Regions from separate parts of the Homo sapiens genome. Here region 2 is linked to region 1. The links come from fine-mapping of genetic effects on gene expression. A gene starts in region 1. The other region holds a variant in brackets. All regions are shown on one strand. Distances are from middle to middle. Region 1 holds the start of ZNF333 (zinc finger protein 333). Region 2 has its middle 7.2 kb from the start of ADGRE2.

What was found. PIP is the estimated chance that this variant, and not a neighbour inherited with it, causes the effect.
Region 2: its variant is the best candidate, but not a certain one, in a credible set for the expression of ZNF333 in whole blood (TOPMed, PIP 0.69).

What each region holds. Positions count from the first base shown.
Region 1 is chr19:14,687,463-14,692,838 of GRCh38, reverse strand. ZNF333 (zinc finger protein 333) reads right to left here and starts at 2,791. Exons shown (of 12, transcript NM_032433.4): 1 at 2,689-2,791. RefSeq lists silencers at 2,448-2,817, 3,148-3,197.
Region 2 is chr19:14,783,034-14,788,409 of GRCh38, reverse strand. No RefSeq gene overlaps it. Among named protein-coding and RNA genes, the nearest start is that of ADGRE2, 7.2 kb to the right of the region's middle. RefSeq lists an enhancer at 1,392-1,891 and a cis regulatory region at 1,656-2,107. The variant G/A (reference allele first, on the strand shown) is at 2,753.

The DNA of each region.
Region 1 (5,376 bases):
GAAAAAAAAAAAAAGAATAAGGTCCAGGTCAAGCACGGTGGCTCATGCCTATAATCCCAGCACTTTGGAAGGCCGAGGCAGGTGGATCACTTGGGGTCAGGAGTTCAAGACCAGCCTGGCCAACATGGTGAAACCCCATCTCTACTTAAAATACAAAAATTAGCTGGGCATGGTGGCACACACCTGTAATCCCAGCTACTCAGGAAGCTGAGGCCAGAAAATCGCTGGAACCCGGGAGGTGGAGGCTGCAGTGAGCCCAGATCCCACACTGCACTCCAGCCTGGGTGACAGAGCAAGACTCTGTCTGAAAGAAAAAAAATAAATAAAAAGAAGATCCAATGCTAACCATGATCTTCAGGGACCTGCCTCCCTCTCTCACCTGGCTCATCCATTCAGTACTTTATTTTCTCTACTTTAGCTTTCTCTACCTGTTCTCAGCTCCTGGAACACAGCAGGCTTCGTACTGCCTGAAAGACTGTACATCTGGAATGTTCTCTCAAGTTTCCTCCGCTACCCCACTCCACAGCTAGACCCCTTGTTTAGCTACGTACAACTCATCTTGAAGGTTCAAACATTTGTTCCTTTTCAGATGTGTTTCCTGACATCCTCCCCAAGTTCTCCTGTTCCACGTTCTCATATTGCCTTTGGCACTATTAATTTACCAATATTATTAGCTAGAATAAAGCCTCCACAGGGGCAAGCACTGTAACTATTTCAGTCCCACTGTTTCCCCATGTACAGGGTCCAATTCATTGAGGGCACCCCAGTGAAAATATGCCAAATAATCAACACTCCTCAAGAATGACTCAGTATAGCTAGCCTAAGAAGGAATATGCCCACGCACACACAAAACACAGTATGAGGCCAGGTATGGTTGCTCACGCCTATAATCCCAGCACTTTGGGAGGCCGAGGCGGGTGGATCACCTGAGGTCAGGAGTTCCAGACCAGCCTGGCCAACATGGTGAAACCCCGTCTCTACTAAAAATACAAAAATTAGCCGGGCATGGTGGCGGGCGCCTATAATCACAGCTGCCTGGGAAGCTGAGGCACGAGAATTGCTTGAACCCAGGAGGCAGAAGCTGCAGTGAGCCGAGATTGTGCCACTGCACTCCAGCCTGGGTGATGAAGTGAGACTCTGTCTCAAAAAAAAAAAAAAAAAAGACAATATGACACCATAAAAATCAAATATAAGAATAACTTAAAGTGCCTGTCTTTCATAAGACATAATCACACAAGTTTCAGGTACCTTTAAGAAACAATATTAATTCTTTTTAAAAAGGCAAGGCAAGCGCATATATTCTTTGTGGAAACAAACACCTCACTCGTAAAACTGAAATCTGATGCATGATTTTCCTCTGGAGTTAATTTTTTCCTGATTTCTCAGTAGACACGAGCTTTAACCCCATTATTAAAAAAGACATCCCACTTATGGCCAACTCAATTTGAATTTCCAGTATTAACAAAGTTTATATCGTCTTTTCCCTGAAGTTCCATTAGTTTTGAAGCTCTGTGATTCACATGCTTGGGGGAAGGACTGGAGCCAACTTGAAAAGATCTGAATAACAGTCTTAGGTTTTCTTGATAATAATATTTGTGAAATAACTGAGAAACGGCTTTTCTTAACCTAACAGTGAGAAACTTGATGCCCACAGCAGAAGTAAAAGTCGTCTCAAACATAGAAAATAAAGAAAAACAAAAACAAAAAAAATTAAGAACTCCTCCTTTTGTTGTTGTTTTTGTTTTTGAGATGGAGTCTTGCTCTGTCACCCAGGCTGGAGTGCAGTGGCACAATCTCAGCTCACTGCAACCTCCGCCTCTGGGGTTCAAGCGATTCTCCTGCCTCAGCCTCCCGAGTAGTTGGGATTACAGGCGCCCACCACTACGCTCGGCTAATTTGTGTATTTTTAGTAAAGACAGGGTTTCACCATGTTGGCCAGGCTGGTCTCAAACTCCTGACCTCAGGTGATCCACCCGCCTCGGCCTCCCAAAGTGCTGGGATTATAGGAGTGAGCCACCAAGCCTGGCCAAAAGCTTTCTTATGAGAAAGAAAAAAAAGAAGAAAGAAAAAGTTATGGAAAAGGAAGAGATGCAAAGCCAAGCTAACAGATATTAAGCTAAAAGACTTCAAATTGTCAGTCTCCAAAAGAAATCTCTCGTCATCTAATTCATTCCTTAATGGAGGATGCATTCAATTTTTTAAGTAAATTTGGCCAATCAATTAAACCAGTTTGCACATGTGGACCCAGACCTCACTTTCCAGTTGCAAAGCTAGATAATATTAAGTATCATATCAAATAAAACGTGAATTACTAATTCGCAGTTATCTTGCATACTGTAGGCAAGGTAGGGCCGTCTTTATGCACTTTCCCTAAAAATTGGGAAGGACAGGTGAGAGCTGGGGCCGGTGTCACCACATTTCTGAGCTGTGGGACCTGGACTGTTTGGGATTTCCCTTTTGACAGGATGACAGCCCTGTCTGCCCGGACGGGGGGTACCTGAGAGCGAGAGACCGGGCGGCGGGCGCCCAGATGCGAGGCCCTGACTGTGTGGGCCTCACGCCGGCCACCGGCTGATCGCAGGGAGGAAACCCCTCACACAGGCGGAGCTGTTCTAGGCCCTCCAGTCCCTCCCCGCGCCAGCCGAGCCCTCCCCGCCCTCCCCGCCCTCCCGAGGGGCCGGGCCACACCTGCAAGCCAGCCGGAGACACTCCCACCGTGCCGTGCCGCACCGCGCCGCGCCGCGCAGCACAGCTCAGCCGCCGTCGGCCGCCGCCGCGCGCACTTCCGCTTCCGGTCTCGGGGCCGCCGGGAACGGAAGTGGCTGTGGCTCAGGCTGTTGTGGCCAGGGTAGCCTTAGGCGGCGGCAGAGAAACTAACGTCTTCTTTAGCCTCCAAGGAGAAATTCTAGTATTCTTACCCGGGGGATGAGGTTAGGCTCTGGAGTGGGGTCCCACAGAGCATGGAGGGTGGTGCTGGGGGCGGAGCCTATGTCCGAGAGACAGGGATAGGGGTGGGGCTTAGGTCCCGGGGCAAAAGTGGGGCGGGGCCTGTGCGCGGGGGCGGGGTGGAGTGTGGCTTGCCCTCCGATGGCTGATGGGCGGGGCTTGCACCCCAATGGCGGAGTGGGCGGGGCCTTGGTTTGCAGGGTGGTAGTAGGGGCGGGTCGTGCGCCTCAGGGGCAAAAATGGGGCGGGGCTTGTGCTTGGGGTGGGAATGGGAGCTGAACTTGCATTCGGAAGGCGGGATGAGGGGACCTGGGCTTCAAGGGTTGAGAGGGGCACACCCGACCCCTCCCCGGGTCTCTTTAGGGATGCTCAATATTTAACTTACCCTTTTCTCCTTCCTTTTCCCCAACCCCTTCCACCTTTATCCATGGGCTTAATCCAATCCCCTACAAAAATATACCCATACTTAAGATTGTTTTTGTATATTTTTATACGGCTGACCCTTAGGCAACGGGAGTTGGGGCGCCACCCTGTGCAGTGGAAAATTCACTTCTTTTGACTCCCCCAAAACCTACCTACTAATAGACTACTGTTAACCAGAAGCTTTACCAATAACATAAAGTTAGTTAACACATATTTTGTATATTATATGCCATATTCTTAAAATAAACTAAGCTCAGAGAAAAGAAAGTGTTATTAAGAAAATCATGAAGAAGAGAAAATATATTTACTCTTCGTTACGTGGAAGTGATCGTAAAGATCATAAATAAACGTCTTCATCGTCAGCTTCACCCTGAGTAGGCTGAGGAAAGGGAGGGGTTTGTCTTGCTGTCCCAAGGAGGACAAAGGTAGAAAAAAATCTACCTATAAGGGGATAGCCACAGTTCAAACCCTTGGTGTTCACGGGTCAACTAACTGTCTTTATTCTAAAAATAGGACGATGTATTTTTGTTTCTTCTACAGCTTGCCCTTCTCACTAAAAATAAGATGTGTGAATCTAAGACATAGATCTGACTTTTTAAAAACTATTTATTATGTAGTATACATAGTACATACCTATGGGAAAAGTTCAAACGGGAGGCTCACTCTATTCCTAAATTTTCCTCCCCTGAAACAACCACTGTCACTAGTTCCCTGGTATTCTTTATATATCAAGCACATGTGCAGTCATGCACCACATAACAAGGTTTTGGTCAACCACGAAACACATACACAGTTGTGATCCCATAAGGTTATAATGGAGCTGAAAATTTCTTATCACCTAGTGATGTTGTAACTGTCACAATGTTGCAGTGCAACACATTACTCACATTTAAAAAGGTTTTAAAAATATGAAAAGACCGGGCGCGGTGGCTTACGCCTGCAATCCCAAGACTTTGGAGGCCGACGCTGGTGGATCACTTGAGGTCAGGAGTTCGAGACCAGCCTGGCCAACATGATGAAACCCCCAGTCTCTACTAGTAATACAAAAATTAGCTGGGCATGGTGGCATGCGCCTGTAATCCCAGCTATTCGGGAGGCTGAGGCAGGAGAATTGCTTGAACCCAGGAGGTGGAGGGTGCAGTGACCCAAGGTCTTGCCATTGCACTCCAGCCTGTGCAACAAGAGCAAAACTCCATCTCAAAAAAAAAAATGAAAAATAGCTTATAGAATAAGGATATAAAGAAAGAAAATACCTTTATGCAGTACAATTTATCTGTGTTTTAAGCTAAATGTTCTTACAAAGAAGTTGGGCCGGGCGGGGTGGCTCATGCATGTAATCACAGCACACTTTGGGAGGCCAAGGCAGGAGGATCGCTTGAGTCCAGGAGTTCCAGATGACCAGCCTGGGCCACATAGCAAGACACTGTCTCTAAAAATAAAAATAAAAGAAATGTATCATTTAAAAAACAAAATGTACAAAGGTTCAGTTATTTCAGATAAATAAGTTTTGGAGATCTAATGTACAGCATGGTGACTGTAGTTAACAGGAACATATTATGTACTTGAAATGTGCTAAGAGGGTAGGTCTTACGTGTTCTTACCACCAAAAAAAAAAAAGCAAATATGTGAGGCGATGGATGTGCTAATTGCTTCATTATTTCACTGTATGTATATCAAAACATCAAGTTGTACACCTTAAATATATACAATTTTTATTTGTCAACTATAACTCAACAAAGCCAGGAGTAAGAAAGGAGTCAGTGGCCAAGCATGGTGGCTCACGCCTGTAATCCCAGCACTTTGGGAGGCTGAGGCAGGTGGATCACCTGAGGTCAGGAGTTCAAGACCAGCCTGGCCAACATGGTGAAACCCCGTCTCTATTAAAAATACAAAAATTAGCCGGGCATGATGGCAGGCGCCTGTAATCCCAGCTACCCGGGAGGGTGATGCAGGAGAATCACTTGAACCTGGGAAGCAGATGTTGCAGTGAGCCGAGATCGCACCATT
Region 2 (5,376 bases), 96 kb before region 1:
AATCAAAAATTATGAAACACGGGCCAGCCACGGTGGTTTACACCTGTAATCCCAGCACTTTGGGAGGCCGAGGCAGGCAGATCACCTGTCAGGAGTTCAAGACCAGCCTGGCCAACATGGCGAAACCCTGTCTCTACTAAAAATCCAAAAAATTAGACGGCGTGATGATGTGCACCTGTAGTCGCAGCTACTTGGAAGGCTGAGGCAGGAAAATTGCTTGAACCCAGGAAGTGGAGGTTGCAATGAGCCAAGATCACACCACTGCACTCCAGCCTGGGCACAGAGTGAGACTCCGTCTCGAAAAACATTATGAAGCACAAGCAAAAGCAAGAAAACACAAACCACAGAGAAATCAGCAGAAACCAGACTTAGAAATAAACTAATAGGGAATTTAAAATAACTATAATTGGGCCAGGCGCAGTGGCTCACACCTGTAATCCCAACACTTTGGGAGGTCAAGGCAGGCGGATCACGAGATCAAGAGATCCAGACCATCCTGGCAAACATGGTGAAACCCCGTCTCTACTAAAAATACAAAAATTAGCTGTGCATGGTGGCACGCGCCTGTAGGCCCAGCTACTCAGGAGGCTGAGGCAGGAGAGTCGCTTGAACCTGGGAGGCCGAGGTTGCAGTGAGCCAAGATCCTGCCACTGCACTTCAGCCTGGCGACAGAGAGAGACTCTGTCTCAAAAAAATAAACTATAATTAATTTTTTTTAACTCTAGTGCAATTCTAGTTTATTGCATTCTCTTATCAAAACTCCTGAACCACGGGACACTGGCGCCACTCTGGCTGGTCCCTCCCAGCTCACAGTAGTCTCCCTCATTCTCTGACTCCCTCCAATTCCTTTCCAAGCTCTGCATTCTTCCAATTTCTCATACTTACTCTCATAGAACTCCTATTTCCTGGGCGCTCAGAACCACCAACATCCCAGCCCTAGATCCCTGAGTCCTATTCCTGGATTTCTGCAGGCCCCCGCACTGGGACCTCAATTTCGCTCCCTGCAAATGTGTGGTCTCTGACTTCCGGTATCGGAAGCAAGGATTTCCGGTTCCCACGCTCCTGTTGACAAAAACTTCCCGTTTTCGTTTTTTGAGGTTGGGCAACAGCACTATGAGAGGCCGAGGCAGGCAGATCACTTGAGGTCAGGAGTTCGAGACCAGCCTGGCCAACATGGTAAAACCCTGTCTCTACCAAAAATGCAAAAAATTAGCTGGGCATGGTGGCACGCGCTTGCAATCCCCGCTACTCAGGAGTCTGAGGCAGGAGATCGCTTGAACCCAGGAGGCGGAAGTTGCAGTGAGCCAAGATCCTGCCACTGCACTCCAGCTTGGGTGACAGAGACCCTGTCTCAAAAAAAAAAAAAAAAAAAAAAACCAAGCAAACAAACAATCAAAAAAAAAAAACGAGCTGACTCTGGACTCACGCAGGCCTGGTGTCTCCGATCCCAGCCTTGCCATTTTCTGGCTCTATGAACCTGGGTGAGCCGCATCGCCTTCCTGAGCCTCAGTTTCCCCATCTGTAAAACAGGGATTCACCCATTCACTGTTCCACAAATGTGCACCCAGGACCCACTGACACCAAGCGCTGCGCCCAGCTCTAACCTATATAAAGTTAAGGCAGAACACGAACATGGTTAAGTGCGTTCACCCCTCCCCCAGGCATGGAGCTGCTGAACTAGTTTTAGGAATGGGGAAATCAGAGCATGCGTGGACAGAGGGAGGACCACAGAGTGGACCACCCCCACTCTTCTCAGATTCCCCTCATTTGACCAAAAAGCCCGTCTACCAGGAGGTGGGACCCCAAGCAGGGTGCCCGGGCTTGGCATCCTAATCCGGGCCAGGAACTGACCCCAGCAGCCAGACAGGGGAGGGGGCTAAAGCTTGGGTTTTCCCACCTCCGGCTTCCCGCCGCTGCAGCGCGTGGAGCCAGCGCCATCTGTGGGCCGCCAAGGGGAGGTGCGTGCGACTGCCGGGGAAGTGGATGGTCGCCCCCGTTTCTCCCCGATCCGGGCGCCTCAGGCCCCCCAGGAGTTTCGGAAACAGCTCTCATCTCTTAAATTATCCTCCACATCCCACTTTTCCCAGTTGTCATTTCCCAGCTAGAACTCATCGTTCATGTATTATTTATGCACATTTATTGAGCAGCTACTGTGTGTATTGAGCAAACCTAGAGCATTGCTGTAGGTTTCGAGTACAGAGAAGAAACAGAACAGGCCTGGCTCGGGCCTGTAACCCCAGCCACTCAGGAGGCTGAGGCAGGAGGATCACTTGAGCCCAGGAGGTGGAGGCTGCAGTGAGCCATGAAGGCAACACCACACTCCAGCCTGGGCAACAGAGCAAGACCCTGTCTCTAAAAGTAAGAAGAGGCCAGGTGCAGTGTCTCGGCCAGGCACAGTGGTCACGCCTGTAATTCCAGCACTTTGGGAGGCCGAGGCGGGTGGATCACCTGAGATCAGCAGTTCGGGACCAGCCTGGCCAACATGGTGAAACCCCCTCTCTACTAAAAATACAAAAATTAGCCAGGCGTGGTGGCAGGCGCCTGTAATCCCAGCTACTCAGGGGGCTGAGGCAGGAGAATTGCTTGAAAACGGGGAGGCAGGGGGCGGGGGCAGAGGTTGAACCGAGATCGTGTCACTGCACTCCAGCCTGGGTGACAGAGCAAGACTCTGTCTCAAAAAACAAAATAATTAAAAGATAAAAAAAAATTCTGAGGGAAAGGTATTCCAGGTGGCGAAAACAGCACATGCAAA[G/A]GCCCTGAGGCTGGACTGGGCCTGGTATATTTGTTTGGGGAATAGTGAGGAAGGTGCTGTGGCTGGAGCCAAGTGAATGAGGGGAAGAGAGCTGGAGGTGACAGGGCAAATCACACAGCCAAGCCTTGTGGGCCTTGGGGAAGACTGGATTTTACTGGGTAAGGTGGGAGCCATAGAGGGTGCTCAAGGAGAGGAAGAGCTTGGTCTGAACGGATTCAGATGCTCACAGGAAGAACAGACGGCCAGACCAACAAGACAGCTGTCACAGATACAGGAAGAGATATTATATCTCCCTGCGGTTGGTTTTGTTGCTTTTTCCCATGACTCATGGGGAGAGGAACCAGTGGGGCGAGGAGCTGGGAGGACAGGCCACCCCAGACTTCCCCTTCCCAGGAGTCGGGGAGCCCCCACCCCACCATGTCCCAGGACACACTCGGGCAGGGCTGCCAGGAGTGTTTGTGTTTCACCCTCTCTAGATGGGTGGAAATGAGGTGTGGCTGGGGAGGTGGTGGGGTGGCCAGGAGGGAAGCTGGGTCCCGGAGAGGCAGGACCCGTGAAGGCATCGGGGAAGGGGGTGCCCCCTCTGAGAAGGCACAGGGGTCTTGCTGTCTCCTTTCTCTATTTGAGTATCAAAGGCCTGCTCAAGCCCGAAGCTAAAGGGAAGGTCAAGGGTGTGGGGGCGTCAGGCTGTGGGTGGCTGGGTTTAGTCACAGCTGTGACTGCACTGCCGGTAAGGACCCTGGAGGCTGGACGTCAGCCCTGCCAGGGTTGGGCAACATCCTGTTGGGGAAGTCTCTTCTAGTTATGGTTTTCGCTTTTCCAGCCCTACTCTGACCCTAGTGGGAGAATTACAGGCAGGGGAGCACAGGATGAACGCGCGCGTTACCAGAAACAGAAATAATCCCCTTTAAATTTTCCCAAGAATAGGATATACACATGCAAAAAATAATAATAATAATGAAAGAACTTAGACCCTACGTCATAACCATACACAAAAAGTAACTATATGAGGCCAGGTGCGGTGCTTCACGCCTGTAATCCCAGCACTTTGGGATGCCGAGGCAAGGGAATCACCTGAGATTAAGAGTTTGAGACCAGCCTGACCAACATGGTGAAACCCTGTCTTTACTAAAAATACACACACACACACACACAAAAATAGCCAGGGGTGGTGGCACACACCTGTAATCTCGGCTACTCGGGAGGCGAGGCAGGAGAGTAGCTTGAACTCAGGAGGTGGAGGTTGCAGTGAGCCAAGATCACGCCACTGCACTCCAGCCTGGGTGACAGAGAGAGACTCCATCTCAAAAAAATTAAATTAAATTAAATTTAAAAATAAACATAAGTATCCGTTTGAGTGTCTGCCTTCAGTTTTCTCAGGTGTATACCCAGGAGCAGAATGGCTGGATCACAGGGTCACTCTGCAAGTAACTTTTTGAGGAGCCGCAAACTGTTTTCTATGCCTGGAAAGAAGTGAAAGGGAGACCTCCATCCGAGGGACAGAGCCCTGGGGATGGGTTGATTCTCATCAATGCTTTCCCATCGTTTCTTTCTGGTACTGGCTGGGACCGTCAGTGCCATCCATGGCCCTAATTCTCGGGAACCCACAAGCCCACAACAGAAGAGGCCCAGAGGCATGCGGAGGGGTTGACCCGGGTGGGCACCCAGCCTGAATAAGCCCCCTTCCTCCCCTGGCCTTCCCCACCCATCGAAAGTCAAGGGAAGGATTCTGAGACCCCCATCCTCACAGTGCCCCCCAGAAGCCTGACCCCATCCTTATCGGGACATCGGCACCACCCTGCTCAGAAGATTTTGCAAAATGGGGAAGACACTGAGAGCTGCAAGAAGGTGATAAAAATGCCACCAAATGTCACACAGCGTTCCCAGCTCAGGGCTTCTTGTTGGCTGCCACCAGTTCCCCACCCCCACAGCCACCCCTGAGCTGTTCCCCTCCCCCACCCTACTCTCTCCTTTGCTTCCTCTAATCGCTTCTCCTTAAAACCTTTACACATTTTAAAATTCTTTTTTAAATATTTGTATAGAGCCTCAGGTTTATATAATTCATGAAACAATGTAATTCTTGGGACCATCGGTCTATCCATGATCAGCTTTATTTTACTTACTTATTTTCTGAGACAGAGTCTCACTCTGTGGCCCAGGCTGGAGTACAGTGGCGAGAGCTCACTGCAACCTTGAACTCCTGGGCTCAAGAGATCCTCCCACCTCAGCCCCGTGAGTAGCTGGGATTCCAGGCACATGCCATCACTCCTGGCTAATTTTTGCATTTTTTGGTAGAGATGGAGTTTTACCATGTTGCCCAGGCTGGTCTCGATCCCCTGGGCTCAAGGGATCCTCCCGCCTCGGCCTCCAAAAGTGCTGAGATCACAGGCATGAGCCACTCTGCCTGGCCGATTTTATCTTCCTTGATACAAACTCTTTTCAGAATTCTCTTTGTTTTTGCTTTGGTCCCTGATAAAATCACATGTGAATATAACCGCAAAACACCACATGCCTGCATTACATGGCGTTACGTTAAACAACCATCATTTTGGCTGGGCGCAGTGACTCATGCCCGTCTCTACTAAAAATACAAAAAAATTAGCCTGGCGTGGTGGTGTGCACCT